Homo sapiens: one gene and its partners. The protein of the gene in region 1 interacts with the protein of each later gene in a pairwise test. Each region holds a gene or a part of one and is shown in the gene's direction. Other genes may lie near its edges.

What was found.
Region 2: the proteins of CEND1 (region 1) and MAGED4B interact in binary tests that used the Homo sapiens proteins (3 or more experiments, as listed by UniProt).
Region 3: the proteins of CEND1 (region 1) and MAGED4 interact in binary tests that used the Homo sapiens proteins (3 or more experiments, as listed by UniProt).
Region 4: the proteins of CEND1 (region 1) and MFF interact in binary tests that used the Homo sapiens proteins (3 or more experiments, as listed by UniProt).

Annotation. Positions count from the first base shown.
Region 1 is NC_000011.10:786,597-795,090, reverse strand, and holds CEND1 (cell cycle exit and neuronal differentiation protein 1), read left to right. Parts: upstream 1-5,000; 5' UTR 5,001-5,061; intron 5,062-6,432; 5' UTR 6,433-6,514; coding exon 6,515-6,964; 3' UTR 6,965-7,976; downstream 7,977-8,494. Other genes in the region: SLC25A22 (mitochondrial glutamate carrier 1), read left to right, coding at 85-104, 190-315, 503-633, 1,472-1,562, 2,103-2,221, 2,364-2,538, 2,633-2,787, 2,874-2,949 and 1 more.
Region 2 is NC_000023.11:52,066,010-52,074,058, reverse strand, and holds the start of MAGED4B (melanoma-associated antigen D4), read left to right. Parts: upstream 1-4,875; 5' UTR 4,876-4,929; intron 4,930-5,834; exon of another isoform or gene 5,835-5,855; 5' UTR 5,856-5,886; coding exon 5,887-6,096; intron 6,097-6,360; coding exon 6,361-7,194; intron 7,195-7,605; coding exon 7,606-7,809; intron 7,810-7,912; coding exon 7,913-7,976; intron 7,977-8,049. UniProt on the Homo sapiens protein: May enhance ubiquitin ligase activity of RING-type zinc finger-containing E3 ubiquitin-protein ligases. Proposed to act through recruitment and/or stabilization of the Ubl-conjugating enzyme (E2) at the E3:substrate complex.
Region 3 is NC_000023.11:52,187,789-52,193,321, forward strand, and holds the end of MAGED4 (melanoma-associated antigen D4), read left to right. Parts: coding exon 1-57; intron 58-160; coding exon 161-224; intron 225-417; coding exon 418-497; intron 498-885; coding exon 886-977; intron 978-1,598; coding exon 1,599-1,678; intron 1,679-1,763; coding exon 1,764-1,806; intron 1,807-2,197; coding exon 2,198-2,260; intron 2,261-2,556; coding exon of another isoform or gene 2,557-2,604; intron 2,605-2,833; exon of another isoform or gene 2,834-2,960; intron 2,961-3,205; coding exon 3,206-3,320; intron 3,321-3,642; coding exon 3,643-4,073; coding exon of another isoform or gene 4,074-4,077; exon of another isoform or gene 4,078-4,085; intron 4,086-4,268; coding exon 4,269-4,278; 3' UTR 4,279-4,480; downstream 4,481-5,533. UniProt on the Homo sapiens protein: May enhance ubiquitin ligase activity of RING-type zinc finger-containing E3 ubiquitin-protein ligases. Proposed to act through recruitment and/or stabilization of the Ubl-conjugating enzyme (E2) at the E3:substrate complex.
Region 4 is NC_000002.12:227,342,114-227,349,765, forward strand, and holds part of MFF (mitochondrial fission factor), read left to right. Parts: intron 1-631; coding exon of another isoform or gene 632-706; intron 707-5,112; coding exon 5,113-5,271; intron 5,272-7,652. UniProt on the Homo sapiens protein: Plays a role in mitochondrial and peroxisomal fission. Promotes the recruitment and association of the fission mediator dynamin-related protein 1 (DNM1L) to the mitochondrial surface.

The DNA of each region.
Region 1 (8,494 bases):
CTCAAGGCCTCCTCCACCTCCACCTCCACCCCGCCTGGCCTGGCGTCCACCTCTGCGGCTCCTACCTGGGTGCAATCGAGTTAAATGGCTGATAAGCAGATCAGGTCAGACTCCAGTCCTGGCTGCGTGCCTCACCCCCACCCTGACCCATGGTCAAGGAAGCCGGTCCTGACACCCCTGTCCACACAGCCTGCCAGCCAAGCTCATCAATGGCGGCATCGCCGGGCTGATCGGTGTCACCTGCGTGTTTCCCATCGACCTGGCCAAGACCAGGCTGCAGAACCAGCAGAACGGCCAGCGCGTGTACACGAGCATGTGAGTGTGCCGGGCGGTCGCGGGGAGTGGGCCCAGCATGTGGCAGCAGGAGAGGTGGGGGCTCTGCTCCTGTGCCCCCCACCCTGTTTGACAGAAGGGAAACGGGAGGCAGGCGGGCCTAGGGGAGATCCCACGTGGGTCAGGACTGGGGTCGGGGCTGGGCTGAGGACTTGGCCTCTTCTATCAGCCCTAGACAGTCCAGGGACCCTGGCCTCCGGCTGGCCCCAGCTGGCCCTGGCTCACCCTGTCCCCTTGGCCACAGGTCCGACTGCCTCATCAAGACCGTCCGCTCCGAGGGCTACTTCGGCATGTACCGGGGTGAGGTTTGGCTCGGCTGGGCTCGATATGGGCAGGCCTGGGTAGCGCCCGCGAGTCGTGGCAGGGAGCGGTGGGGGAGGCAGGGCAGGGCGGCCAGCCTGGGCCTGGTGTGTGAGCGTGGACGTGTTTGTGGGGGCTGTGCCTGTGCAGGGGGGACTGGATCTCTGGTGAGTGGTAGTTCTCAGCCTCTCCCGTGGCAGCTCCCCACCCCCACTTAGTGCCTGGTGCGTGGGATGCCATGGTACATCTGTCTCTTCTCTGGTGGCCACAGCTGCCTCTGCCTTCTGGGCCAGGCTGGACCCCGTTTGTGGCTGGGGATGGGAGGGAGTAAGGGGCATTACCGCAAAGCAGCTTAGGACACAATCCAGAGCCTAGATTTGGCAGAAGCTCTCCAGCCCTGAGCCTTCGGCACTGAGATGGGGGCTCTCCACAGCCTCCCCCGAGCTCTGGCCCAGTCCAGACCACACACTCCTGTGACCTCTGGCCCCAGCCCCCTGCCAGCACAAGCACCATCTGTCCTCCAGGGAGGGAGAGGTATCCTAGGGAGGCCTCAGGGGCTCCGGGGCAGTCCTCATGCCCTGAGCAGCAAGATGCTGCCCAGAATCAGAGACAGATGGAGCTGCAGTGGGCATGGGAGAGCCTGAGCCTGAGGTGCTGCCCCATCCCTGCCTGGCCCCGCCCCACCTGGCACACACCAGGCCCAAATGTGGGTGAGAGAACAGATGGTGGCCAGGAGTGACTGGGACAGGGTTTTGCCAGCCAGGAGGCAAGTCCTGGCCAAGCGCCTCCCCACTCAGGCCACCGAGCATGTCCCCCCAGCTGACCCCCTGCCCCACAGGAGCTGCTGTGAACTTGACCCTCGTCACCCCCGAGAAGGCCATCAAGCTGGCAGCCAACGACTTCTTCCGACATCAGCTCTCTAAGGACGGGTGAGGGTTCTGCCTGGCAGACACTCGAGGGGTCTTTGGCTTCAGATAAAGGATGGGTCCACCCTGCCAGCTGGGTCCCACCTGGGGGCTCTGCCTGTCTTCAGCCCCTTGCTTGGGGCTTCTTTGACCTCGTGGGGCACCCTCCCTCCTTTCCCCTGACCAGGGGAGCAAAGCAGATGTCAAATCAGTGGGGCTCTGGCTTGGTAGCCCTTGGCCTGAGGGCACTGACCAGCTCCCCCATCACTGGAGGGGGACTGCAAGGGCAGCCCCTTTTTGGGGCACTTGACCCCCAATTTCCCATTTTCCTTTGTCGCAGACAGCCCCACTGCCCTCCCCAGGCCCCTGCCTGTGGGGCCGTCTGTCCATCGGTCTCCTCCCTGCCTGCTGCTGCAGTGGCGGAGGCTGGGGGCTGTACCCCCACAGGCCTGCATCTGCCTCCACGGCTCCCACCATCCTCTGCGCCCAGGCATGGTGGGCAGCCCCGAGGGTGGCAGGTAGACCTGTCTCTTCCCACTTACTGCGGCCCCGCCCCTACCACAGGCAGAAGCTGACCCTGCTTAAAGAGATGCTGGCGGGCTGTGGGGCTGGCACCTGCCAGGTGATCGTGACCACGCCCATGGAGATGCTGAAGATCCAGCTGCAGGATGCAGGGCGCATTGGTGAGGGCGGGGGGAGGGGGAGGAGAGGGCAGAGGTGCGGGAAGAGGTGAGGGCGAGGGGAGGGTGGGGACGCAGGGAGGGCCAGAGCGTGTCCCCTGCCCAGTTCGCACAGAAGAGGAGACAGCAGCCTCTTTGTCCCCAGCCGCCCAGAGGAAGATCCTGGCTGCCCAGGGCCAGCTCTCGGCCCAGGGGGGTGCCCAGCCCTCAGTGGAGGCTCCAGCTGCCCCTCGGCCCACGGCCACCCAGCTGACCCGCGACCTGCTGCGGAGCCGTGGCATTGCCGGTCTCTACAAGGGACTCGGGGCCACGCTGCTCAGGTAGGAGGCACAGGGCAGGTGGGGGGAGGGAAGGGGGAGGCCGGCCTGCCCACCCCACCACCTCCTGTCCCCACGGCCACCTCCCTCCCCACAGGGATGTCCCCTTCTCTGTGGTGTACTTCCCGCTCTTTGCCAACCTGAACCAGCTGGGCCGCCCGGCGTCCGAGGAGAAGTCGCCTTTCTACGTGTCCTTCCTGGCCGGCTGTGTGGCTGGGAGTGCCGCCGCTGTGGCCGTCAACCCCTGTGATGGTCAGTGCATGGGATGGCGCCCGGCTGGGGATGGGGCGGGACTGAGCCCTTGGCCAGGCTCACACTGACCCGAGCGCCCCTTGCAGTGGTGAAGACGCGGCTCCAGTCACTTCAGCGAGGCGTCAACGAGGACACCTACTCTGGGATCCTGGACTGTGCCAGGTGGGGAGGTCCCACGGCGGGTGGGGCCTGGGGGCCTGCGTACCGGGCTGACCCTTTCGTCCTTCCTCCACAGGAAGATCCTGCGGCACGAGGGCCCCTCGGCCTTCCTGAAGGGCGCCTACTGCCGCGCGCTGGTCATCGCGCCCCTTTTCGGCATCGCACAGGTGGTCTACTTCCTGGGCATCGCGGAGTCCCTGCTGGGGCTGCTGCAGGACCCCCAGGCCTGAGCCCAGCACCCGCTCCACCCCAGCCAGCTGGGCAGGGCCGGTGTGGGGCTGGAGCCAGGCAGCTAGCCCAGGACGGAGCAAGGGAAGACCCCTCCCCAGCCCTCCCGTCGGCAGGGGCAGCAGGGGGCAGGGTGCAGGGTCCACATAGGTGGTGCACACGCAAGCCCCCCGGGGTGCTGCCTGCACCGTTGGGATCAATGTCTCATTTATGTAGAAAATGCAGAAATCTTTACATTCCTCAAGCTAGCCCCTGCCCCAATCCTGCCCTGGCCTGAACACCCCCAGGGACAGAGCTGGTCTCTGGGCTGGGGGCCCCCGGGCCTGGGCCGGGCAGGCTGGACCATACCCCCAGTCCACCAGCTCCAGTCTCCACAGCCATCCTGGCCCACACAGGCACCCCACACAAACCTATTTATTGAATCTGCTGGACCCAAGCGGCTCTCCAGCCCTTCCGTCCTTCCCCAGCCGCTCTTGTCGCCTTGGCAGGACTTGACTCTGCCTCCCTGGCCAGCCTTGCAAGAGGACTGGGGTCTCCTGCCCTCTCTGTTGAGCCAGGAATCCCAAGTGAGGGGTTGCCCTGAGGTCTGACTCTTGGGGCAAGCCCGCCACCCACTGTGGGACTTTCTGGTGGGCTCCTCAGCTCCCACCCCAGGCTGGGGCCCAGATTGTGAGGTCTGTGTGCATGTGTGTGTGTATGTGTGTGTGCATGCGTGTGTGTGTTGTGGGGATCTGGCCTGGCCCTTGGGGATGGGGCTGCTGGGGACTGCCCCCCTTCCCGCCGTGGCCAGGCGCTCTGTGTGCTGTGTGTGCCCCAGGCTCTGTTGACCCCGTCCAGGAACTAACTTACCCAGCTTGGTCTCTCCTGAGTCCTCCACCCTGGCCTGGGATTGGCCAGGGAGCAGGGCGGGCATTGGGACCAGTGTGGAGCCTGAGGGTGCCTGCCCTGCTCTGGAGGGAGGGCCAGGAGCTGCCACACCCCCAAGTCCTCTCAGGGCCCACCCTCCTTTTTCAGCCTCTGCATAAGGCCCCTGGGTACACTGCAGAAGCCCCATCCTTCCCGCCTCCGGGCATAAGGCCCCTGACCACACTTCAGAAGCCCCATCCCCCCTGCCACCGGGCGATCCCTGCTGTGAGCCGAAGCTCTCCCTGCCCCGCCCTGGCCATGTGATCGTGTTGGTGACAGACCCTGATGTGCTGGTGCTGTGTCCCCAAAACCGGGGCCCTCCACAGAGGCCCCTTCCCAGCGACACTACCTGGGGCTCAGGCCTGGACCCCCCCAGTTCACGGTTGCTCCTGGGAGCTGCCCCTCCCGTCACATCAGAACCTTGGAAGCTGCTGCTGCTGCTTACAGAATTATATTTTTTTCTTTTGAAGAGTTTTAAGAAGTTGTAACTTTTTGTGTCTTGTCATGTCAGAGAATAAATAAATATTCTAAGTAGATGCTGCTGTCTGTCTGGGGGTCTGTTTGGGGGCGGGGGAGGGCAGTCCCCTCTTCCCATAACTGGCTCCCTTCAGACTGCAGGGCTAGGCCTGCGCACCCACCCACCGACCCCTCACCCACCGACCCGTCACCCACCGACCAAGGGGCACCCTGGCCTAGAGGGGATGCTGAGCGGGACCCGCCTCCTGCCTCTGGCAGTCCCAGATGGGACTTGGACCCCGCAGTTGCTCTCTCGGACCCTAAGTTTCTACCCCTGGATCTAAGGCGGAGCTGGGTTTGCGGATCCCACGGTTCCCGGCGGGGCGGGGCCCGGTCGCCCCTCCCCCTCCCCGCCCTCCTGCGCCGGGAGCAGTGCATTGTGGGAAACTCCCGAGCTCTCCTCCGCGTTCGCAGCCGCCGTCATCCCGCGGAGGAGCGCGCAGCCCCGGGGAGGCCGGAGGACGCGTAAGGCGGGGGGCTCCCGGCGGGCGGGGCGGGCGGGGCGGGCGCGGCGTCCTGCGGGGCGAGGAGGCGGCTCCGGGCCTTGAAGGTCACTGGGTTTGCGCGCGGGCCCCCCAGTTCTCCAGGGCTCAGTTGATCCCGGGAGAGGGAGGCGGCGGCCGGGATGTAAGTGCCACAAATAGCGAGGTTGGGGGGGCAGACCACCTGCTCTTTGCAAACTTGATGCCCAGCAGCTGAGCCCCCCGAGAACTGCAGGGGTGAAGGGACGGCTGGGCTTCCCTGGGAGGTGGCAGCAGCTGGGCCTCTTCTGGAGACGCCCTCATCATGCTGTGACCTTCGGGTGACCTTCAGTGTGGTCAATGCACCTGGCGGGGGGTGGGGAACGTGCCTCCCTTTCTCTGCAGGTCTGGAGGGCATTTCTCATCCTTCCCTGGGAGAGGCAGACAGGCGGCCTCTGGGGCTTTGGGGCAAGACCCACTCAGGTTCAGGGCGGCTGGGCCCCCAGGGCCCTTCCCACCTCTGCCTCGGTCATTGAGAATCTGGGCACCGCCTTTCCCACAGCCCAGAACCCTGTCCTCCGCCCTGACCCGCGGGCCAAGTGCAGCATGTGCCCACCCTGTTTAACGCCAGGAACCCTCTGCCCACAGAGACAGCACAGCCTTGGGCTGGGCGAGGACTCCCTGCTCCAGGGCTGGAGGCAGGCACGGCCCATGCTGAGGAGGGGGCCCCAGAGGCTGGGGAGGGGCAGACGGCCCTTGGAAGCACAGCCCCACGCTGACTTCCTGGAGAGACACCCCAGTTTTCTCAAGTCTGGGTTCTTGTGGGCCCACCCACCCTGATGGCTGCCTGAGATCCCAGCTCCTGCCCCTCCCCGCCCTCCTCCCCCTGGGACCCTGGCCAGGTCACAGCCTCCGTGCTTTAGTGTCCATCTCTGCAAAGCAGGAATGCTCTCCTGAGGAGGGGATGCAGTCAGCTCTCCCACTGGGGCTCCGATCACCTCCTTGGAGGGGAGAATGCTCTTCCTTCGAGTTCTCTGGGCCTGATCCTTACTTCCCCACCAAGAGCCTCCTGCCCCCGGCTGGTGGGAGGATGTGGCATTTGCATGGGCCATTTTATGGAGCACAGTGGGGTCCCCTACCTCCTCCCACCTGTGCGTGGCCCTTGCCTCTGCGGCTGGAGGGGCCCCTTGAGGAGTGGTCATGGACAGATGGAGTCCAGGCCGTGAAAGAGAAGTGTCAGAGGCCCACGGGAGGCCCCTGAGCTGGGGCTCCAGAGAGTCCAGAGAACTGGGCAGGGGCTGCCTGGGGACCAGGTGGTCGGGGCAGCACAGGGGGGACTGGACCCGCGCGCAGCCTCCCTTGTGTCTCCCTCCAGGCCCATAGAATGCCCAGGGGCGACAAACTGTCCTGAGCCCCTCTGGTGCAGCCACCTGCCTGTCCCATACGCCCCGCCCACCATGGAGTCCAGAGGGAAGTCAGCCAGCAGCCCCAAGCCCGACACCAAGGTGCCCCAGGTCACCACCGAGGCCAAGGTACCCCCGGCAGCCGATGGGAAAGCCCCCTTGACCAAGCCCTCGAAGAAGGAGGCCCCGGCCGAGAAGCAGCAGCCGCCAGCAGCCCCCACCACGGCACCTGCCAAGAAGACCTCGGCCAAGGCCGACCCTGCCCTTCTCAACAACCACAGCAACCTGAAGCCAGCCCCCACGGTCCCCAGCAGTCCCGATGCAACCCCGGAGCCCAAGGGTCCTGGGGACGGGGCGGAGGAAGATGAGGCTGCCAGTGGGGGGCCTGGGGGCCGAGGTCCCTGGTCCTGTGAGAACTTCAACCCCCTGCTGGTGGCTGGGGGTGTGGCCGTGGCAGCCATAGCCCTGATTCTCGGTGTGGCCTTCCTGGTCCGGAAAAAATAATACCTGGGGGCCAGGCGGGGGGCACGGAGCCACTTCCTGTACAGACCCGAGGAAGCCAGTGCATGCAGAGTTCACCCTTACCTATTCGTACACACGCACATTCATTACACACCTACATACGCCCCCAACACACGCGCACGGTGAAGAGGACGCCCGAGCCCACCCCTGCTGACCCAGGACTTCCCCAACCTCCAGGGCAGAAAGAGCCCAGGCTCCGGGGTCCACAGCACAGGATGTGGGGCGAGGGCACAGCTGGGGAACGGCAAGAAAGGAATGGACCCTGTGTGTGGCCCCCCCCACCCCTGGCGGCTGGGTGATCCTGGGCCCCCAGGGCTGGTCTGAGTGCAGGTGGGGGTGCCGGGATGGGTTGGGCCTGGGCCCGGCCCTCGTGGGGACATTAAAGGGCGCGGTGGCTCCACTCGCCCCATTTCTGCTCTTTGCGTACCCCCCGGGGGTCTGCCTGGGCGAATGCAGTGGGACGGACCTGGGGTGGGCACTCACCTCAGCAGAGCCTCAATGCCACCTCCCCACACCACCCAAGCCTAGCTGGGTGGGAAGACGGAGCCCTGAAGCCTGCGTGTGGAGGGGGTGCTGCCCAAGGGTCGCCTTCCCCAGCTTGTGCTCCAGGGGAGCCCCGACGCCGGCGGGGAGGCAGGGATGTCGAGGGCCCCTCACAGCTGTGCCCGCCCTGCCCCGCTAGACTGCCCCTCCAGCTTGCACCCAGCACCACCTGAGTCTAACCAGCGTATAATGCAATAACAGGTAGAGTAGAACTGCTTTTGGCGGCGACCGTCACACACTGTCCTCAGCCCACTGCACCTGGGGAAGCCCCTCGTGCAGCCCCTCCTTAGCACATCCAGTCCCAGCGTGGCCCTTGGCGCGCAGCAGCAGGCGAACTCCCAGAAGGTGGTGGTGGGCACTGTGAGAACGTGGCCTGCCCTCACTGGCCAGTGGCCACAGGAACCCCGGGCCTGAGTGGAGGCTGAGTCTGAAATAAACTCTGTCGTCTGAAGGCTGCTCTTGCATCCTCATCTGCATGTGGCTGGGAGACGCAGGGTCGCATGTGTCACGCCCACACCCCAGGCTTTCCAGGGAGGGATGCTGCATCCAGGACCCTCTGACGGGACCCCCTGTCACTCCTATGCCCTTATTCCAGGGGCCTCGGCCCGGATCGCCACCCAGGCCCTGCTCCATCCTCCTCCCTGGCCTTCCTGTGGGTCCTGACCCAAGATGGACACCCAGGGGCTACAGGACCAGGAAGCAGTGAGGACATGGGGTGCGGGGAGGGCAAGCCCTGCTTCTCAGGCTGAGCTCTCCAGCCAGGCAGGGGCCCTTCCGCAGCCCCCACTGCAGCGAGCCCCACATCCTGAGTGCAGAAGAGGCTCCCCTCAACACCTCTCATCCATGGACCCCAGCCCACTCTGACCAGGTGTCCAACCGGCGGGCCTGCTGGTGGGCCTGGCCACGGGTGGGGCTGCAGCATGCGGGCCAACAAGCAGCAAGGCCTGCGGTGCCTGGGAAGGGCTCCTT
Region 2 (8,049 bases), on another chromosome or scaffold:
GTTAACATCTCTTCATGGTAAAAACTCTCGATAAACTCAATATTGAAGGAACATACCTCAAAATAATGAAAATCCATCTGTGACAAACCCACGCCAATATCATACTGAATGGGCAAAAGCTGGACGCATTCTCCTTGTAAACCGGCACAAGACAAGGTTGCCCTCTCTCATTACTCCTACTCAACATTGTACTGGAAGACCTGGTCAGGGCGACCAGGCAAGAGAAATAAATAAAGTGTATCCAAATAGGAAGAAAGGAAGCCAAACCACCTCTGTTTGCAGATGACATGATTCTATATCTAGAAAACCCCATAGTCTTGGCCAAAAAGCTCCTTCAGCTGATAAACGACTTGAGCGAAGTTGTAGGATACACAATCAATGTACAAAGATCACTAGCATTCCTATACACCACCACCAACCAAACTGAGAGCCAAATCAGAAAGGCAATCCCATTCCCAATTGCCACACACACAAAAATAAAACACCTAGGAATACAGCTAACCAGGAAGGTGAAAGATCTCCACAATGAGAATTACAAAACACTGCTCAAAGAAATCAGAGCAGACATGAACATATGGAAAAACATCCCATGCTCATGGATAGGAAGAACCAATATCATTAAAGTGGCTACACTGCCTAAAGCAATTTATAGATTCAATGCTATTCCCATCGAACTACCAAGGACATTCTTCACAGAGCTAGAAACAATTATTTAAAAATGTACATGGAACCAGAAAAGGAGCCCGGATAGCCAAGGCAATCGTAAGCTAAAAGAACTATACTGCAAGGCTACAATGACCAAAACAGCATGGTACTGGTACTGGCACAAAAACAGGCACATAGACCAATGGAACAGAATAGAGAGGCCATAAATAATGTCGCACATCTACAACCAGCTTTTTTCTTTTTTTTTTTTTTTGACAAAGCTGACAAAAACAAGCGGTGGGAAAAAGACTCCATATTCTATCAATGGTGCTGTGATAACTGGCTAGCCGTATGCAGAGGATTGAAGCTGGACCCCTTCCTTACACTATCTACAAAAATCCACATGAGATGGATTAAAGGCTTTAATGTAAAACCCAACACCATAAAAACCCTGGAAGACAACCTAGGCAATACCATCCTGGACATAGGAGCAGGCAAAGATCTCACGACAGAGGCACCAAAAGCAATCACAGCAAGAGTAAAAATTGACACATGGGATCTAATTAAACTTAGAGCTTCTGCACAGCAAAAGAAACTATCAACAGAGTAAACAGACAACCTACAAAGTGGGAGAAAATTTTTGCAACACTATTCATCTAACAGAGGTCTGATATCCAGCATCTATAAAAAGCCTAAACAAATGCACAAGAGAAAAACAAACAACCCCATTAATAAGGGGGCAAATGACATGAACAGACACTTCTCAAAAGAAGACATACATGTAGCCAAGAAGTATATGAAAAACAGCTCAATATCACTGATCATTAGAGAAATGCAAATCAAAACCACAATGAGATACCATCCCATAACAGTCAGAATGGCTGTTACTAAAAACAAAAAATAGCAGATGCTGGCGAGGTTGCCAAGAAAAGGAAACCCATATACACGGTTGGCGGGAGTGTACATTAGCTCAACCATTGTGGAAAGCAGTATCGCAATTCCTCAAAGAGCTAAAAGCAGAACTACCATTTGACCCAGCAATCCCATTACTGGGTATAGAGCCAGAGGAATATAAAGCATTCTACCATAAAGACACATGCACCTGGACTATTCACTGCAGCACTGTTCACAAGAGCAAAAACGTGGAATCAACATAAATGCCCATCAATGACAGACTGGATACGGAAAATGTGGTGCATATACACCATGGAATATTATGCAGCCATAAAGAAGAACAAGGCCGTGTCTTTTGTGGGAACAGGCATGGAGCTGGAGGCTATAAGCTCAGCAAACTAACGCAGGAACAGAAAAGCAAATCCCACATGTTCTCACTTAGAATTGGGAGCTAAATGATAAGAACTTATGAACACAAAGAAGGAAACAACAGACACTGGGGTCTCCTTAAGGGGGAGGGTGGGATGACGGAGAGGAGCAGAAAAGAGATAACTCTTGGATAGTGAGTTCAATACCTGGGTGATGTAGTCATGTGTGCAACGAACCCCCGTGACACGTGTTTATCTATGTAACAAACCTTCACATGTACCCCCAAACATAAAAGTTTTAAAAAATATTACAGTGCAAGTCTATTGATGATCAATTCTTTCAACTTCTGTATGTCTAAACACCTACTATTTTAACTTCATTTGAAAAGATATTCATTGAGTATAGACTTAAGAGTTGACATTTATTTTTATTTCACGATTTTAAAGATGGTGTGCCACATGACTTCTGACTTGCATATTGCTAATGAGAAATGTGCTGTCATTCTTCTCTTTGGACATCTAAATGTTTCTTATGGTTTTCTTCTGATTTTCTAGTTACTTAGGAGAAAGGGTAAATCTCTGGGCGAGCAGATAGGTAAAATGTCAGGAATGCACACCATGGATTCTCTGTGCATAGCACCTTGGACATACTTTAGATTATGCGTGGCAACGTGGAGGCCTCCTGAAAGCACAGGGCTCAGTGAAAAGAAAATTAAGAAATCCGGTGGATACTTGTATTTCCAGCCATGATGGATTAACAGGAACCGGACTTACCGTCTCGCCTAAATACCTATAAACCAAAAAAATTATAAGGCTTAACGTCATGGCACCACCTGCATACGGGACAGTGATCCCTGAGAGAAAGGGAACCTGACCAGGTGAGCCCTCTGATCGCCCAATTCCACCAACTTCTTGCCCGGATAGAGTTTGCAGGCTGCAGCACAGGGGAGCTGAACACAACAGAGCCCGGTGGACCGTCTGAGTGAAGGAGACAGAGTTGAGAGCTCAAGAGGTCCATAGGACCAGAATTTGCCGGGAGTAATGGAGAGAAGACAGCTGCACAGAGAGGCAGCTCTGGAGACCCTTCAGAGCTTGCCCTTCTGGATGCAGCGTATCAGAAACGGGGAGTGGTGATCGATGACTCCCAGTTTCTGGAGTGAGTGGTTGTGTGGATAATGGCGCCATTTACTGAGACTGTGAAGATGGGTTGGGGGGGGGGGGAACAGGAGCGATGGGGATGTGTGAGTGTATGGGAGGAGTGAGTATACCAAGTGACCAGTTTTGGACAGGCAAACCATGAAGAGCCCTTGAGACTTCCAAGTGGAGATGCCACGTAGGTGGGTGAATGTATGTACTTGGACCTCAAAAGTGAAGTTCAGACTGGGGTTGTAGATTTTTTGGAGTGATTAGCACGTAGCACTTTCTGAAGGCTTTCGTTTGTAGGGTGTGTTCCTCTCCCGCAGAGGATATGTTACAGGGGAAGGGCTAAAGAGGCACAAGCAGCTGACAGGAGAGATTGATATATAACAGCTGGAGAAAACCACAGAGCCAGGCAGAATGGATACTGGTCAGCGGAGAGTAAAAGCTGCTGTCCTAGCAATACCTTCCATTCATACACAGGGGTCCTGGTGAGGCTGACATAAAAACAAATATAAAAATCTACTACGAATTTTACAAACAGTCCAGGTTCGACTGCAGATGAGACCACAGCATTTTCTGCCTCAAAAGACATCCAAGTGGAGATGTCACGTAGGCAGGTGAATGTACTATGCACTTGGACCTCAAAAGTGAAGTTTGAACTGGGCTTGTAGATTGTGGAGTAATTAGCTCAGACACACAGGTGTCTAATTGTCCTGGCGGACACCAGGAGGGTCTCAGCGGCAGCGTGATTGTATCGCTGATAAGGAAGAGGCCTGACAATCTGAGTAGAGAGTGGACCCGGTGGAGCAATTCTCATACCTGGATGGACCCACATAGAGCCGCAGAGGCTGGGGGCGAGGCGGGGGGAGGCTCTGTCTCCCTGTGTCCTGAATGCGGAGCATGAACTTAGGCCTTCTACAGCACAAACCTTGCTTCTTTGGGACAGATGTTGGGGTGGGGGAGGCCTGTCACTCAGACGGAGGAGGCGGTGCCTCTGTCCCCAGGCCAGCAGGAGCAGGAGGTGGACTTTGGAGTCCGGAAGACCCAGGTTCAAATTTTGCATTTTCTGTTTCCTGGCTCTGTGGTCTAGTTCATGCAATGTGTCTGTGCCTCAGCTTCCTGACACGCCAAATGGGGATGCTGACATCCACTTCCCAGCGCTGCTGTGAGAGGAAGAAAAGCCCCAGCACAGATCCCTCTGTGACATACAAGCTGCATAAAGGGTAGCTGAGGAAGCAGATGTTCCCAGTATGTCTGGGGGCCAGAGAGTTGGCTAGTGGAGAAGCACACAAAGCGAAGTGCCATCCTCTGGCCATGTCCATTTCGTAGCCCCGCAGGTTGAGGATTTCCACTTGTTGCAGTTAGAGACCCAGCTTATTAATTGTGAGACCTCACTAATTGTGACCTAAGGGGTCTTGCCGGGGAAACGGGGCATAGTGTATCCCAGACCAGGCTGGAGGAGTTTGGGTGAAAGGGCAGGGCAGGACAGAGAAGCATTGTGCAAAAGTGGGGGGACTGAGAAGAGATGATTGGGTGGGTCGAGCTGCACTGCAGGGTATGAGTGTGCGCGCCCGCGGTAGGAGGAGGAGGAGGAGGAGAGGTGAAGTGGATCTGGCGGGAAGAGCCCCCCGCACCCTACCTTCGACCCCACCGCCCACCCACCCGCGGAATCGCATGCGCACTGGAGACCTGGAGGAAAGGGCTTTTGTTGGGAAAGCGGGCGGGCTGGAGGGGTCCGCGCATGCGCAGGCTACCCAGCCGCGGGGGGTGCACGGAGAAAAGGGGCGGGGTGGTCCGGGCTGCTGTGCTGGCAGCAGTAGGCGAGGGCGCGGCTGCGGGGTTCCTGGTGCTGAGGACGGACGCCATTGGAGTTCCCGAGAAGGTAAGGATCCAGCCCCAGACAGGACCGGGAGAGGGCGAGTGGAACCCGACACGCTGCGCCCTCCCTCCGCCTCCGGATCTGAACAAAGCCCAAGCACTCAGAACCGGAACCCCATTAGACCCAAGGTCTAGATAGGAGCCCCCATCACCATCAGACCCAGGCGCCCCGATCTGAGCCCTACTGAAACCGGAGCCCAGGATCCTCACCCCTTTAGCAGACCCGTGTGCTCCGAGCTGAGCTCCCTTGGACCTGAGGCCCCACCCCCACCCCAACCACTCCTAGATTACTCGAACCGAGCTGACCGCTTGCCCCCTTCCTGGAGTGCCCAGTCCTCGCGTTTGAGATCTGCAGCGCTCCGATTGGAGCCTCACCTAGGTCTGAGGCCCCCACTCCATCCGCCTCTAGTGCTCGAGTCTGAGCCCCACCTAGGCCCCCCGCCCGGACCTAGCCAAAGGTCCCTGGGGTTCTGTTTCGCAGAGCTTGCGGCTTGCCACTGTCCCTGTTGTCTGAGCTCTCCCATCTGCTCCCCCTTCATCCCGGTCCCCTTCTCTGGCCCGTAAATCCAAACCCTTTGTTTCTCTCTTCCCCAATGCATTCCCTTTGGGACTCTTCGGACCCCAGCCCTCCAGAACACCCCCTCGTCAAATCTAGCCGCTGGGATGGCGAGCCTGCCCATCCTAAACTCCGCTTTCAGTGCGGCGCCTCCTGCGACCTCCTCTGTCCCTTTCCTTGGGCTCTGTCCCTGACCAGGTCTACCCCATCAGAAAGCCAAACCGTCTCCCCCCCGCTCCTCCTCCCCCCCCCCGCCCCCTACTGCCTAATATTGCCTAGTAACCTGATGATTGTCGCCCCTCACCTCCCGGGAGATCCCGCCTCCCATTGGATCCCGCCCCCTCCCCCTGCAGCTGCTTCACCCTCCCTCTCAGGCTGAGCTCTCATCTCCCTGGGACCCGCAGCATGGCTGAGGGAAGCTTCAGCGTGCAATCGGAAAGCTACAGTGTTGAAGACATGGATGAGGGTAGCGACGAAGTCGGGGAGGAAGAGATGGTTGAAGGCAACGACTATGAAGAATTCGGTGCGTTTGGTGGCTATGGCACCCTCACCAGCTTTGACATCCATATCCTCAGAGCCTTCGGAAGCTTGGGTCCAGGCCTTCGCATCTTATCGGTGAGGCCCCTTCCTGGACACCTGCTGGCCTGGGCCTTTCCCCTGTGAATGGGGGAGGGAGGAGGGGGGAGCCAGGAGGGTTGTGTGGGAAAGGACTGCCCAGCTTCCCAAGCCTTCCCTCCCCTGCTCGGAAGAAGAAGATTTGGGAAGGTCTTGGGGTGTTCAGGGCTGACTGCTGGGAAGAGGCTGGCCAGCACAGGGAAGCTAACACAAGTATGTCGTCGAGTGGCCTGCCTTCCCCAACCCCTCTCTCTGGCCTTGCAGAATGAGCCCTGGGAACTGGAAAACCCTGTGCTGGCCCAGACCCTGGTGGAGGCATTGCAGCTGGATCCGGAAACACTTGCCAATGAGACGGCCGCCCGTGCTGCCAACGTAGCCCGCGCCGCCGCCTCCAACCGTGCGGCTCGGGCCGCTGCCGCCGCTGCCCGTACCGCCTTCAGTCAGGTGGTCGCTAGCCACCGGGTGGCCACGCCGCAGGTCTCAGGAGAGGATACCCAGCCCACGACCTACGCCGCCGAGGCTCAGGGGCCCACCCCTGAGCCACCCCTTGCTTCTCCGCAGACCTCCCAGATGTTAGTCACCAGTAAGATGGCTGCCCCCGAGGCTCCGGCAACCTCCGCACAGTCCCAGACAGGCTCCCCGGCCCAGGAGGCTGCTACTGAGGGCCCTAGTAGCGCCTGTGCTTTCTCTCAGGCTCCGTGTGCCAGGGAGGTGGACGCCAACCGGCCCAGCACAGCCTTCCTGGGCCAGAATGATGTCTTCGATTTCACTCAGCCGGCAGGTGTCAGTGGCATGGCCTTCCCGCGCCCCAAGAGACCTGCCCCAGCCCAAGAGGCTGCCACAGAGGGCCCCAGTGCTGCCTCTGGTGTGCCCCAGACGGGACCTGGCAGGGAGGTGGCAGCCACCCGGCCCAAGACCACCAAGTCGGGGAAGGCGCTGGCCAAGACTCGGTGGGTGGAGCCTCAGAATGTTGTGGCAGCAGCTGCTGCCAAGGCCAAGATGGCCACGAGCATCCCTGAGCCGGAGGGTGCAGCTGCTGCCACTGCTCAGCACAGTGCTGAGCCCTGGGCCAGGATGGGAGGCAAGAGGACCAAGAAGGTGAGATCCCCCTGCCCCCTGCCACCTCCACACCCCCTTGCTCCTGTCCTTTCCTTCTCCTCCCTTTCCTGCTCCTCTCCTCCCTCTCCTCTCCCCCTTCTTCCTCTCTTCTCCTCTTTCCCCTCCTTCTCTCCTCACCTCCCCTCTCCTCCCCTCCTCTCCTCTCAGCTAGTCCATGTTTCTCCAACACAAGTTTGCTGAGCATGTTTTCACTCCACGTAGTCCCTACCCTCAGGACTGGTGGGAGAAGAGGCTGGCTCAGTGCCTGGCACTTAGTAAGCACGCAGCACATGCCAGCCGCTGCTGGTACTGCTCTCATTTCCAAGAGCCTGCTACGGGTGAGGTGCGTGCCGGGTGCTTTGGCACGGGGAGCCTGGTAGCCCTGGGTCTCTCCTCTCTCAAATGATACAGTCCAAGCACCTGGATGATGAGTATGAGAGCAGCGAGGAGGAGAGAGAGACTCCCGCGGTCCCACCCACCTGGAGAGCATCACAGCCCTCATTGACGGTGCGGGCTCAGTTGGCCCCTCGGCCCCCGATGGCCCCGAGGTCCCAGATACCCTCAAGGCACGTACTGTGCCTGCCCCCCCGCAACGTGACCCTTCTGCAGGAGAGGGTAAGAAGCCCACCCTCCCCCATCTCCTTCCTCTCCTCCCTTGTGGGCCACGTCTCTGCTGTCACCCATGCCTTGACCTCCCCGCATGTTCCTCCTTCTCCAGGCAAATAAGTTGGTGAAATACCTGATGATTAAGGACTACAAGAAGATCCCCATCAAGCGCGCAGGTAGGCAGCCTGTGCCCCCTTCACCATCCCCTAGTCTGTGGGCATCCCTTTGCTTGCGTGCCACGGCTGGTCC
Region 3 (5,533 bases), on another chromosome or scaffold:
CCCTCAAGGCACGTACTGTGCCTGCCCCCCCGCAACGTGACCCTTCTGCAGGAGAGGGTAAGAAGCCCACCCTCCCCCATCTCCTTCCTCTCCTCCCTTGTGGGCCACGTCTCTGCTGTCACCCATGCCTTGACCTCCCCGCATGTTCCTCCTTCTCCAGGCAAATAAGTTGGTGAAATACCTGATGATTAAGGACTACAAGAAGATCCCCATCAAGCGCGCAGGTAGGCAGCCTGTGCCCCCTTCACCATCCCCTAGTCTGTGGGCATCCCTTTGCTTGCGTGCCACGGCTGGTCCCTCCATAGCCACAGGACGGGGTCCTGGCTGCGTCACCCTCGGCAGAGCTGACCAAGGGGCTACAGCTCTATGACCCCTGCTCAGCCCAGGTGCTTTCTCCAACTCTTCCCCCTCCTGCAGACATGCTGAAGGATGTCATCAGAGAATATGATGAACATTTCCCTGAGATCATTGAACGAGCAACGTACACCCTGGAAAAGGTGGGTGCAGGATGGGAGCAGCTCTGTGGGGGAAGAGCGGGCATGGGGGTGCGGTGACCCTGCAGCCCCTCAAGGCCCAGTCTCTGGAGCCATCTCTCACCTCTCCGACTCTGAGCTTCCACTGCACTGGCAGTTTGACTCGTGCTTCCTGCCCTCGGCTTCTCTCTCTCATGCTCTCTGAGTGTCTCGCCGTCTGGCCAGGTGGGTCTCATCGCCTCTGCCAGCGTCAGCTCCCACAGCGAAGGTCTTCCGTGTGCTGTCTTCTTCTGCCCTCGCTCACGAGTTTGGATTCCTTGCTGAGGAGCAGTTCTAACCCGGAATCACTGTCTGCCGGCAGGATGCCCAGCATGGGGTTTGGATCTCACACTCTGTTTTCTCCCCCACGTAGAAGTTTGGGATCCACCTGAAGGAGATCGACAAGGAAGAACACCTGTATATTCTTGTCTGCACACGGGACTCCTCAGCTCGCCTCCTTGGAAAGTAAGAAAGGGAAAGCGGGTCGTGGCCTTCCTCGGTGGTGTCCCTTCCCTGCCCACACCCCTTCAGTGAAGCAGGAAGACGGGGCTTGAGTGCGGCGCACCGCTCCCACACACAGCGAGGGCTGCCTGGTGACTGCTGGATGAAAGGAATGATAGCCTGGGGTGAGGCCTTGCTGCCATCAGTTCTCCCCAAGCTGCTGCCGGGCTTTATCCCCAAAGCTTCGGAGGAAAGTGCCTCTTCCTCCTGCCTGCCTGGCCTGGGCCTGGCAGAGCTGGCCTAGGGGAGAGCTGCCTCTTCAGTGTAGGTGCTGATGTGGAAGGGGCAGGAAAGGTCTGGAGCCATCTCTGGGCACACGTTTGCCATTTGCAGAGCTTCGGCTCCCTGCCTCGCCCTGTCCTCTGCAGAACCCTGTCAGGGAAGTGTTAGTACCCATGTTTTATAGAGGAGGCGATTAAGTCTCAGGCGGAGGTGCGAATGGTCTGTCAGCAGCTAGTGAACTGTGCCTGTCCTGGGAAGAGTTCCCCTCAAGCTGGGAAACCTGAGAGAGGCTAGTTGGGAGAGCCTGGTGGTGTCTCTCAGGCAAATAGCTGCTAAACAGGATTTCTCTTTCCACACCTTTAGAACCAAGGACACTCCCAGGCTGAGTCTCCTCTTGGTGATTCTGGGCGTCATCTTCATGAATGGCAACCGTGCCAGCGAGGGTGAGTGGCTGGACCTGCAACTGGGGGGCTGCCCATAGTCTCATCTTCTGGGTGCCAAACTCTCGTACCTCCTCTCCCCTCGCAGCTGTCCTCTGGGAGGCACTACGCAAGATGGGACTGCGCCCTGGGTATGATTGGCCTCTCCAGCTCCTCCCCTCGGTGCTATCCTCTGGCCAAAGAGGTCCTGGGATTGCAATAGCCTGGTGGTCTGGCGCAAGGGCGTGGGGTGCCCTGGGCTCGGTAGAGAGCAAAGGATCTCACCAGGGCGGATGGGGAAGCGGTGCTGGACGCTGCTCAGCCCTCTCTCTGCTCTGTGGCCCCAGATGACATCTAAGAGAGACAGTCAGAGTCAGGGATTCCATCAAATCCCTACCTGGGGCGTCCCTGACCAACAGTCCTCTGGCCTCTGCTGCATGCCCAGGCCTCCACAGCGACTCCCCGGGGGCTGGGAAGTCATAGTCATGCTAGGGAGGGCCCCTGCCACCGTCTCTGCTCATGGATTCCTTTCCTTGCCCTCAGGGTGAGGCACCCATTCCTCGGCGATCTGAGGAAGCTCATCACAGATGACTTTGTGAAGCAGAAGTAAGTATCACCTGAGCTAACTGCGGCTCTCACTCGAGCATCCTTTGTGTGCTGGTCTGGCTGAGAAAGCAGTTCCCTATCCCAAATCTTCAACTGGAGGGATGGGTGCCTCTGACCTGGGAGTGAGTGGCAGTGGGGGGTATGCGAGTGTGTGGGGAGCCGAAGGCCAGGGCGGTCTTGGGAAAAGGGAGCTCACGTCACCTGAGAACACGGTGTGGGGTGTGAAAACGGCCGCCATCACCTTGAGCACCTGCCCTGTAGACTGACACAAGAGTTCCCCCTGGTTTACACCTAAGGAACCCGGAGCTCAGAGAGGAGACGCCTCTGAGCATGGCTCCCAGCTGGTAAGGGCCTCAGCCCAACTCTCCTGATTTTCAGGCCAGGGGCCACCCTCTCCCCGTCCCTGGAGGACTTGCCAACGCACAGGCGCGCATGCACACCAACAAAGGGTCAGGACTTGAGGAGGATGCCTGGAGCACGCTTCTCCTGGCTGACTGTTTCTTCCTCTCCAGTCGTTTCCTCTGGTGGGCCTCTCCAGGGCTCCGCCGGGGTGTGGCCAAGACCCTCGAGGTGGGGTGTGCTCAGAGCAGGGGGCCTGAAGAATGGCTCCTCTGTTTACAACACACCCAACAGGAAGCTGGGGTCATCGTGATGAGGGGCACAAACTTGTGGCCTCCCTACAGACAAATGCCCTACATGTGGACCCCCTGCACCTCCGCATGGCTTCCGGGGAGGACCAATGGCAAAAGGCTTTGAAGGCCTCACTTTTGCAGGCAGAAGTCCTGGGAGTGGGTTTGGGAATGAGTGAAGGGCTGGAGGGGCAGGACAGTCCTCTTCCAGGAGCTGAGCTGCGGCATCGGGTTGAGGAGGGGCCCCCTGGAACCCATCCGTTCAGCAACAGGTCTGCTTGGCTAGCAGCAAAGTTTACTTTCCTCTCATGCCAAGGTACCTGGAATACAAGAAGATCCCCAACAGCAACCCACCTGAGTATGAATTCCTCTGGGGCCTGCGAGCCCGCCATGAGACCAGCAAGATGAGGGTCCTGAGATTCATCGCCCAGGTAAGGGAGCGCCTCTGTTGGGTGCCCGGCACCGGGGGTGGTGCTCTCCACACCTTGCTTGTTTCTTGGTCGAGGCCTCCTTCCCATTACCCCGTATTCCAGTGAGGGTACCAAACACTCACAGAGGCACCTGAGCACCCTACACAAGGTCACAGATGGGGCAAAATCCCAGGTCTGGCACAGGAGAGTAGGAGCCCCCAATCCCTGTGGTCCTGATTTTTGCCATCATTGCACAAAGCACACGGGAGGGGGTGAGGCGGGCCGCGGGTGCTCAGCCAGTGTGGGGTAGCTCTGTGTCTATGCCTGCCCTTTTCCTCCTCAGAATCAGAACCGAGACCCCCGGGAATGGAAGGCTCATTTCTTGGAGGCTGTGGATGATGCTTTCAAGACAATGGATGTGGATATGGCCGAGGAACATGCCAGGGCCCAGATGAGGGCCCAGATGAATATCGGGGATGAAGCGCTGATTGGACGGTGGAGCTGGGATGACATACAAGTCGAGCTCCTGACCTGGGATGAGGACGGAGATTTTGGCGATGCCTGGGCCAGGATCCCCTTTGCTTTCTGGGCCAGATACCATCAGTACATTCTGAATAGCAACCGTGCCAACAGGAGGGCCACGTGGAGAGCTGGCGTCAGCAGTGGCACCAATGGAGGGGCCAGCACCAGCGTCCTAGATGGCCCCAGCACCAGCTCCACCATCCGGACCAGAAATGCTGCCAGAGCTGGCGCCAGCTTCTTCTCCTGGATCCAGTAAGAGTTTCGGTAGAGAAATGAGACTCTGCAGGAGGGCTGCGGAGGGGGGTGAGATGTCAGAGGGAGGGCCAGGGTGGGGGCGCTGGGGGCAACGGCAACAGCATGGACGGACACTTATTTTGTTACGTACACCCCTCCCTGGTTCGCGTGTGTCCACGGATGTTGTCACTTTGGTTTCTTGTGCTTTTATAGGCACCGTTGACGAACTGCAGCGATCTTACTGGCCAAGCCAGAGCGCCTCCTCTCAGATTCCTTCTCGACACAGCACCCTAGGCGGCTTCTTCCTGTCAGTCGGAGGTGGCATGCAAGATGAAGCTCTCTTTGCTCTTCCTGCTTTCATTTTGTGCTTTTCCTTGTGTTTTCATGTTTTGGGTATCAGTGTTACATTAAAGTTGCAAAATTAATTTGGATGTTTCTTCCTTTACCTGCACACCCATTGCTATACCTGGCCACGCTTGGGCTTGTAGCAAGGAAACTTCTTCAGGCTCTCTGGGGTAGGTGGGCCCCACCTCTGCCAAAAAGGCCCACAGGGACAGGTGGGATGCTGGGAGGTGCGGAGGTTGGTTACGCCTGAGTGCGTGAGCAGGAGTTTGGAGAGGCCCCAGTGCTCATCGTTATGTGATTTTCTACAAACCTTGCTCAGCAGCCCCAGGGACATGGCAAGAGTCGGGGCCACAGCAGGGGCGGGGTGGAAAATTGCAGCTTGGTGCCACTGCCCCTCCCGCCGAGGGACAGGGTCCAAGGCTCTCACCAGGACCCACCTCCCACACCCCCTCCTTGGAGATGATGTTCCGGAACCCTTGGCTCATCATCCACACAGTTCAGGACCCCGTCCTCGGTACAGAGTCTGACGGACAATGAGGTGGGCCCCGCAGTGATGTTCGCAGCCCTCCAGTGGGTAGAAGGAGGGGCCGTGATTGCTGAGGGAGCAGGATGTAATAAAAACAACGCACGGTGCACGCGTACACAGCCCCTTGCCTGTGACGGAACGGCGGCCTGTTTGGAGCTTCGCAGCCCTTCTCCCCCAGCAGCAGGGCTCTCCCAGTGAGGACAACACCAGGCCTACCTAGGTCCTGGTGTGTTCAAGGGCTGGGTGATGTCTGGAGGGGTCTGAGGTAGGGCTGCACATGCTTCAGGTACAAGACAGTGAGGGCAGAGACAGTTTGGTCTCCTGGGAAGGGCTCAGTGGCAGGCAGGGACAGTGTCCAGGGCTTCTGGAGTTCCCCGGTAATGTCCAGGGCTTGGGAGGACAGAGCCCTAGATAAGGAGGGAAAACATAGCAGTGGAAGGCTCCCTGCTTCCCACCCCCTCACCCAGCCCCAGCCTCTGTTTCCCCAGGAGGGGCTGCCATCTCCGCCACGGCCAGATCCTGACCCAGACCGGGCTACCTAATTTGGGAGGCCCAGTGGAAAATGAAAACACGAGTCTCCTTGTCAAAAACTATGAAGGATTTCAAA
Region 4 (7,652 bases), on another chromosome or scaffold:
ATTTTCTAAATTTTTAGTAAAACTGAAAATCTCATTTTTGATAGTAAAAGTAATGAATCTTTATACATTTTCACAGTGAAACACTTAACATTGCTTAACCATATTTTTCATTATGGTTGTAAAGTATATTACCATGTTATGTATGTATTTTGTTAATAATGTAACTTTGCCCTTTCTTTTCCTACTGTTGTTAATTTTATAATTTACAATTTATCTTTAAGAATCTACATCTTACTAACTTTAGAATTTTGTATAATGAACATATTATTCAGTGTTGTTAACGTAGTGAGGAAAAAACAATTGATATAATACCTCTATTAAAATAATTATTAAACTCTTACTATCTTTACCTACTTTAGTGTTTTCTTTGTAACATGAAATTGTTGTGCGTCATAGTGCATGAAACTTTGCCTGTCTCCACTTTATTTTATTCCATGGCTTTAAGAATAAAAGTGCGAACGGGTATGAGAGCAGGAGCACTAGCCTTTGTTTTCTTAATTACTTCGAAGAGGCAATAAGATTGTGGTCAGCTATTAGCGCAAAAGTGAATTCTAAACAGTAAAATCAGATCTAGCTTTTTCTTTGTGTTATAAAAGCTGAATATGTAAAAGAAGCATAATTATTATTTAAGGTGGCACAGATCAGATTCTGCCCCAAGAAATAAAATTTCAAGGTTCCAGGCACCGATTTCTGCACCGGAGTACACGTAAGATTTTATCTGCTCTGCTTTTGACAAGTAGTTGTTTTGATTTTGAAGGATTATGTTAATACTAATCTATTCACCAGGTAATTGACGTATGCTATCCTAATTATCTTCCTGTTTGGCTTTTTAGTACCTCTGTTTCAGGATTTCTCAAACTGTCATTATATGCTTTATTAAGGAAAAAAAAAAACTAGACCATCTAAGGAAGTTGTATATGATTTTGCATGTGTTGGTGAAAGGAACCTGAAATATAATATGCACATAAGGACCAAGCATCCTTTTTTGTTTATTTTGCTTTGGTTGGTATAATAGTTCTCAACAGATTCAACGTCACCTGGTGCAGTGATCCCAATTTTTTTTTTTTTAATTTCAGCGCACTGTCTTTTCTTCTTCTATCTTGTTTCTGAAGGAGAATGGAGCATAAGTGTGGTTTGTCATTTATTTTATAATCCCATAGATGAAAACGATGCTTGGAAGCACTTTTTTGCTATTATTAAACCCACTCTTTCCATGTGACAAAATAAGGTATGAGAATGACTCACTCATGGAGCACAACGTTTTGGTATATAATACAGGTATTCAATAGCTAATACACTTCTTAAGCAACAGAAGAAACTGCACCGAAAGCCAACAGTTTTCCTCTTATTCTGGTTCTATTATTATGCTTCCAGGAACTATTCAGTTGCCATAGATAGTGGCAATATATTAAAATTTCCTCTGTATTTACAATTCCAAGAGAAATTAATATATTTGTGTTTTAGTGAAAATTTTTTCTCTTTATTGTTTTACCCTATTTTTTGGAAGAGTGATACCTCACCGAAGAGGTTAAATTCACAGGTTGGGAAACATTATTCCTATGAAAACTCAAAGAGGTACTTGATTTTGAACTTACTTTTAATAATGATATAGTTATGCCAAGTAAATTTTTATTTAAATTTTAATTCTGACAATTGGCTGGTGTTTTTTTGGTTGTTTTGTTTTTTTCTTTTGAGACGGAGTCTCACTGTGACTTCCAGGCTGGAGTGCAATGGCGTGATCTCAGTTCACTGCAACCTCCACCTCCCGGGTTCAAGCGATTCTCCTGCCCCAGTCTCCCAAGTAGTTGAGACTGCAGGCACATGCCACCATGCCCGGCTAACTTTTGTATTTTTAGTAGAGACAGGGTTTCATCATATTGGCCAGGCTGGTCTTGAACTCCTGACCTCAAGTGCTCTGCCCACCTTGGCCTCCCAAAGTGCTGGGATTATAGGCATGAGCCACTGTGCCCAGCCCTGGTGTTGTTTATGTAACTCTTATGTGATAAGATTTCATGTAAGCATGAGGTAGAGCTATTACTAATGAAGCATGGTAAACATCAGTGCTTTCTTCAAAATTTTCTAATCTTTTCTTTTAAAAAGGTAATGTTGAGACTTTGCTATTTTATAATATCACTGGAATCAGTTTATCAAATTGCATTTTTATTAAATTACTAATATATATATAATGCCATTTACTTAATCTTCTCAGTGCCTTTGCAGTATGTTTACTTTTTTATTTTCCACAATAGTTCACTTGTCAAAACTACAGAAACAGGAAGTCATTAAACCTTGGTTGGGTCCATGAGTGGACGGAGATGAAAGCGCTGTTTCCCTCCACAGTTGATAGCTGTGGAGTACATTTTAGCTCCTGTCAAACTGATTGCTAAAATGGAGCTTATTCTTTTTTGTTTTTACATTTATTTGTAAAAAATACCAACAAGACTGCTTAAAGTTTTAAAAAGGAAAGACAATTGCTAAATTATTTATTGCCTCTAATTACTAATGTAGTTTTGGCAGTCTTAATGGTGATTTATTTCATCTGTGGATGGAATTAAATGTTACCAAACAAGGACATTTAATCTATACAACACTGGCAAAAGTAGTCATCAATTAAAAAAAAAAAATACTCCCGATTTCGTTTTTTGTTTATGGAGGATTGCCATACACATGAATGAAAAGCTAATTTTTTTACTAATCTTTGAAATGTTAATTTCTTTTGAGAAACAACTAGAACCTCAAGTTATGTTTTTGATGCTGGTTTTTGAGGAAATAAATATCTTTACTAGTATTGATAAAAACTTAATTTCATCTTTTATCTTTCTACATAAGTATTTTTCATGTTAAATTATAACTGAGGATCATGTAAGGTTTTTTCTCATTGTATTCCAATTTCATGTGATCGTAAAATCTTAGAATTGAGAGAGATCTTATAGATTGTTTTAGAATCCAACCTTCTGCATTCCATCTTAGGAACTCTTTGCAGTTAGTCTGAAGTAAGTTTATGTTTGACTATTTTATAAGATGACCTCCTCATTTCCTATATATGGACAGAAAATACTTGTACTTTTACAGTTTAAATAAACAATTCATTATTGTTTGTTTCTGGCAAAAGGATTTCTCTTAGAGGAAGTAACCCTTCTTTTATTTTAATTTTTAATGGGCCAACATCCATTAAGTTTTTTTCATGGATTTGAGTTTAGTTCATTCATACTGTTGCCCCAAGATTATAATTCTAAATATTGATTATTGTAGCCTTTAATATGTTAGTATATAGCTGGTTTATTTATCAGTACAGAATGATACACAAAGTGTTCAATTTAAACCCCCAAATGCAAAGGCAAAGTACGGATTTGTCCTTTAAAACTTGCTTGAGTGAATTTAGGCAGTTAACGCTGGCTGCTCTATCAAGAAGAGTGTAAGATGGATTGTTTGTTTATGTTGATGTAGAACTGACCATTTTTTAATTCTCACAAGCAGTAAGAGCTTCAGGTTTTCCCAGTGCTGCCTAAAGAGAATTCTGAGTGTAAGACTAACATATAGTTTTGTTTCACAAATAGGATGTTTTTTTTATTTGTTTGTTTGTTTGTTTATTTGTTTTTACCCTTCTGGAATGCCTGGTATGGGTTTTGCCAATTACCATGGATCAGTAGATAATGTTGGCTTATATGTATTCCCAGAGATTGCCAGTCTCTGGACGGACATTTAAGGTCACTGGTCATGAGACTGCATCTGAAAATTTGAGTTTATCTTGACACCAAATTTGACCTAAATCCTATAGTGAATCAGGCTTGATAGATAGTTGCTTTATACGTTAAGATTTGGCTTAGATCTTTTAAGTAATCTTTGAAAAACATGGTTTTCATATTATGGTACTTCTGTCTTTGGATCACCAAGCCATTCAAAGTTATTCATAAAGCTGTGGAGGAGATTTTGTTTTTTAATTTTCTGGGACTCTGGGAATAATATCAGATGACTATAACTATCCTGTCAAAAATTATCCCACTTATTTTGTAGTTTCCAAACAAATACATGCTGTTAGAAAAGATTACACAGTCAAAATAAGAGATTTTCTTTTTTCAATTGTTTACCATCTGCTTTGTTTTTATTCTTTCAGATGTAATACACATTGGATGACATTTAGCCTGATGTTAGTTTTGCCTTGACGTTGAGAATGTTGAGCCCTCATTCCACTGTCGTAGTCTGTATGTCAGTTAAATACCTCACAATAGATAATCATACTGTAATGTTAAACAGCTCCCTGAAAATACTGACACAGATCTTAAGAGTTTAGGTTAGAACCATAAGAATTGGTTCATTCAGCTTTCAGAAAGCACTGGCAGGGGAGTCAAATGAAATTGTGAATCTCAGCCCACACATGAAAGAACGATTAAGATTATTGTCACTAAGAAGCCCAGAAATGGTTATCAGCCATTGATAATTTAAGAAGTGTCCTTGCCTTCTTTTGCTGTATTCACAGATTTGGGAATATTTTTATGCTTTAGTCATTTAACTAGAGAACATATGCTTACTATAATTAAACAATCAAAATGCTTTGTTACCATTTTCTAAGACTAATTCATCCTTAAATCAGTGTCATTTATTCGTCATAAACTTCAACTTCATTGGCTTTACGAAGTGTTTGAAATGGTGTTTTTATGGAATCACACTTTTGATTCATGTGTTTAAACTTTGACATCTGTATGTGAGAATTCCCTGTCCTACTCTTCTAATCATCCATAAGTCGACAGCAGTGTTGTTTCTTAGAAGTTGGTTTATTGAATTGGAATATAAACACGAAGTAAAGAATGCTGCTTCTCCATGGGAGGGGTTGAACACATTCATTGCTGTAGTTCTCTTCCCTCTCTACAGTTCTTTCATATTCAGTTTATTTATTTTGATGTTTAGGGTTACAAAGTTATAAGTGCTGCCTTGTAGCTAGTTTTTGGAAACAATTCAAAATATTTATTCTTTGACTGTTTTCTTGTGGGGAGAGTGAAGGGTGGGAAAGGGGCAAGAACACTAAGAAAATTAAGATAAAGACTGCTCAGCTGAAGTTTTATAAAAATCTGACTTGAGTGTTTTTCTCTTCATTTGCTGTGCTTGTGTAAACAGTGTGACACCATCGCCACAACAGGCTCGGGTCTGTCCTCCCCATATGTTACCTGAAGATGGAGCTAATCTTTCCTCTGCTCGTGGCATTTTGTCGCTTATCCAGTCTTCTACTCGTAGGGCATACCAGCAGATCTTGGATGTGCTGGATGAAAATCGCAGGTGATTGGCCATCCGTGACTCTTGACAGCTTTATTGCATATTTTTTGGCCTCTTGTTTAGTGGACTGTGGTGTCTTTCTTTTCTGTTTTTACCTTCTAGCCTCTTTCTAAGATGCAATGATTTGAAACAGCTTGCTTTACTTTCTTTTAATTTGAAATTATTGTCCAAAATTCACATTTCACAAGATTACATTAGCTTTCCTTCTGTCAGGGAGAGTATACATAGAAAGTGTAGTGATTTTTTTCAAAGGCTTTTCTAGCCTACTCTAAGTACTTGATTCCACTTAGGGATATGCCAAGGGGCCCCGTCCCATTGGATTGAGTGTTAGACTGAAGTTTACTAGTCCTCGTTAGTCTTTTGATTTAATCATTTATGCTGCTGATATGATTGGATTAATAAAGCAAATCTGAGGAGGTGATGTCAGCGCAGCTGCCAGGACACTTTTTTCCTTTCCTCTCAGCTACGGATTTCTAGGCTTGTTTTGAAAATTCCAGGTGCTATCATCTTTTTGATAATACTGATATTTTTCAGTGTTGATAATTTATCTCACTTTTGAACATCTCCAGGTAAAATCATCAGTAGTATACTTAGACTTATTCATACAAATAATTTTTTTGCAGTTATCTCAAGTACTTTTTGTCCTTGCTTTATTACTACATAATGTTTTAAAGGAAATTCAGGGAGCTTTTTTGGCATAGTGTGGGAAAGATAGAGTCAATTTCATTTCAACTCTGAACATTTATCTAGTGGCTTCTGGTAGTCAGGGTTTGAATTTTCATGATTATTTAATTGTTACTTTTTGCATTTTGAAGAATTTCACAATAAATTAAGCTATCCCTTCTAATAAATCCTGTTTCTTACCTTAGGAACGAATATGACTTCTGACTTGCACTGGACAAACTTTTTCTTGTTGAGTGCTTGTAGTCCTCACACAGGCCCTGGGTATGTCACCATACTTCGTAAGCACCTGTCCATGCTACTTATCATTGTTGAATCCAGGGCCTTTCTGAGCCTTCCCAGAGTTGACCTAGTGCTATGCATTTGGGCCCAAGGACTGAAAGCTGCACTAAGAAGAGCTTAAAAAGAAAGCTCATGGCATGAGGGTGTGGGGAGGGGAATTATATATACATGTATATGTATAGATCTGTTTTGTTTGTTTTTCCCCAAGGGTTTAGACTCCCTTTTATGCTTTTTGAAGCTTCAAAGCCATTCTTGGACTATTGGGAAGCTGTAAGAAGCAGCAAGGTTCAGAACAAAAAGCATGGATTCAGGGAGTCAGTTAGAATTAACCCGGATCCACCCCACTACATAGCTGCATGATGGCCTTGAACAAATTGCTTAGCTTCTTTTGGCCTCACTTTTCTCATCTGTTGAGAAATAGAGAGGAAGGGTAATAATATCTAGCTTTGTGAATTCTTGTGAGGATCTTCTCCCCTCCCCCACCTTTAATTATAATATAGGGATAATGGCCTCCAATTCTTTATTTAGTATGGTAGGAGATCTTTCAAACGATATTGCATATAAAGTAGCTGGCACTTAAGAGCTAATATTTACAAGGGCCTGTTTTCTCTTCCCTCCTTAAAACAGATTTATTGTCCATCAGCTAACTTGTTTAACTTTTTAATTACAATAAGTCCTTAGTGGAGACCAGATTATTAGGTGCGAGTATATCATATCAAATGCTATTACATTTAAAATATCTGAATGAGAGAGATATTTCCAAATCTTGTATAAAAAGTAATAATAGCTAGATGGCAGAGTCACAGTACATTAAAATTATATGTCCCAAAAAGTAAAAAAAGAAAAAAAATTATTTGTCCCAATTCCCCCTCACCAGCATATACACAGTTCATTGCAATAATGTGGAACTTATAAAAATATGGATTTTTTCCTCCATAATGGAAAAAAAATTGTGCCTCAGAGTCAAATGTATAAAATCAAAAATCGTATTAGTATAAACTTTGTATTTTTTTAATAATGAAAAATATTTTTGGACTTTCAGTGAAATTTTATTTCACTTTTTTACATTGTGATGAATTGATAACTCTAAAATCCCTTTTCTGGGAAGGAATTCTCTTTTCTCATTCATTTCAGTAAGTTTTTAAAAGTTCATGAAGGAGTTATATTAATAATGCTTTTCTCCTAGATCTGTAGCATTAGTTGTTACCTTGGAGCTTGGAGGGTTAGATTCTCATCAGTCTTATTGACGCTTTCAGTATTGAAAGGATTTTTTAAAGTTGTATTCACTTAGGATCTCAGTGTTGAGCAAGATTTTATCAGAATTTTAAGTGCCAAATCAGTTTTTATTTCCTTTGTGAGAAGTATCTGGCATGACTTTTCAGATATAAGAAATAGGAATGTGAAATTTGGATAATGTTCTA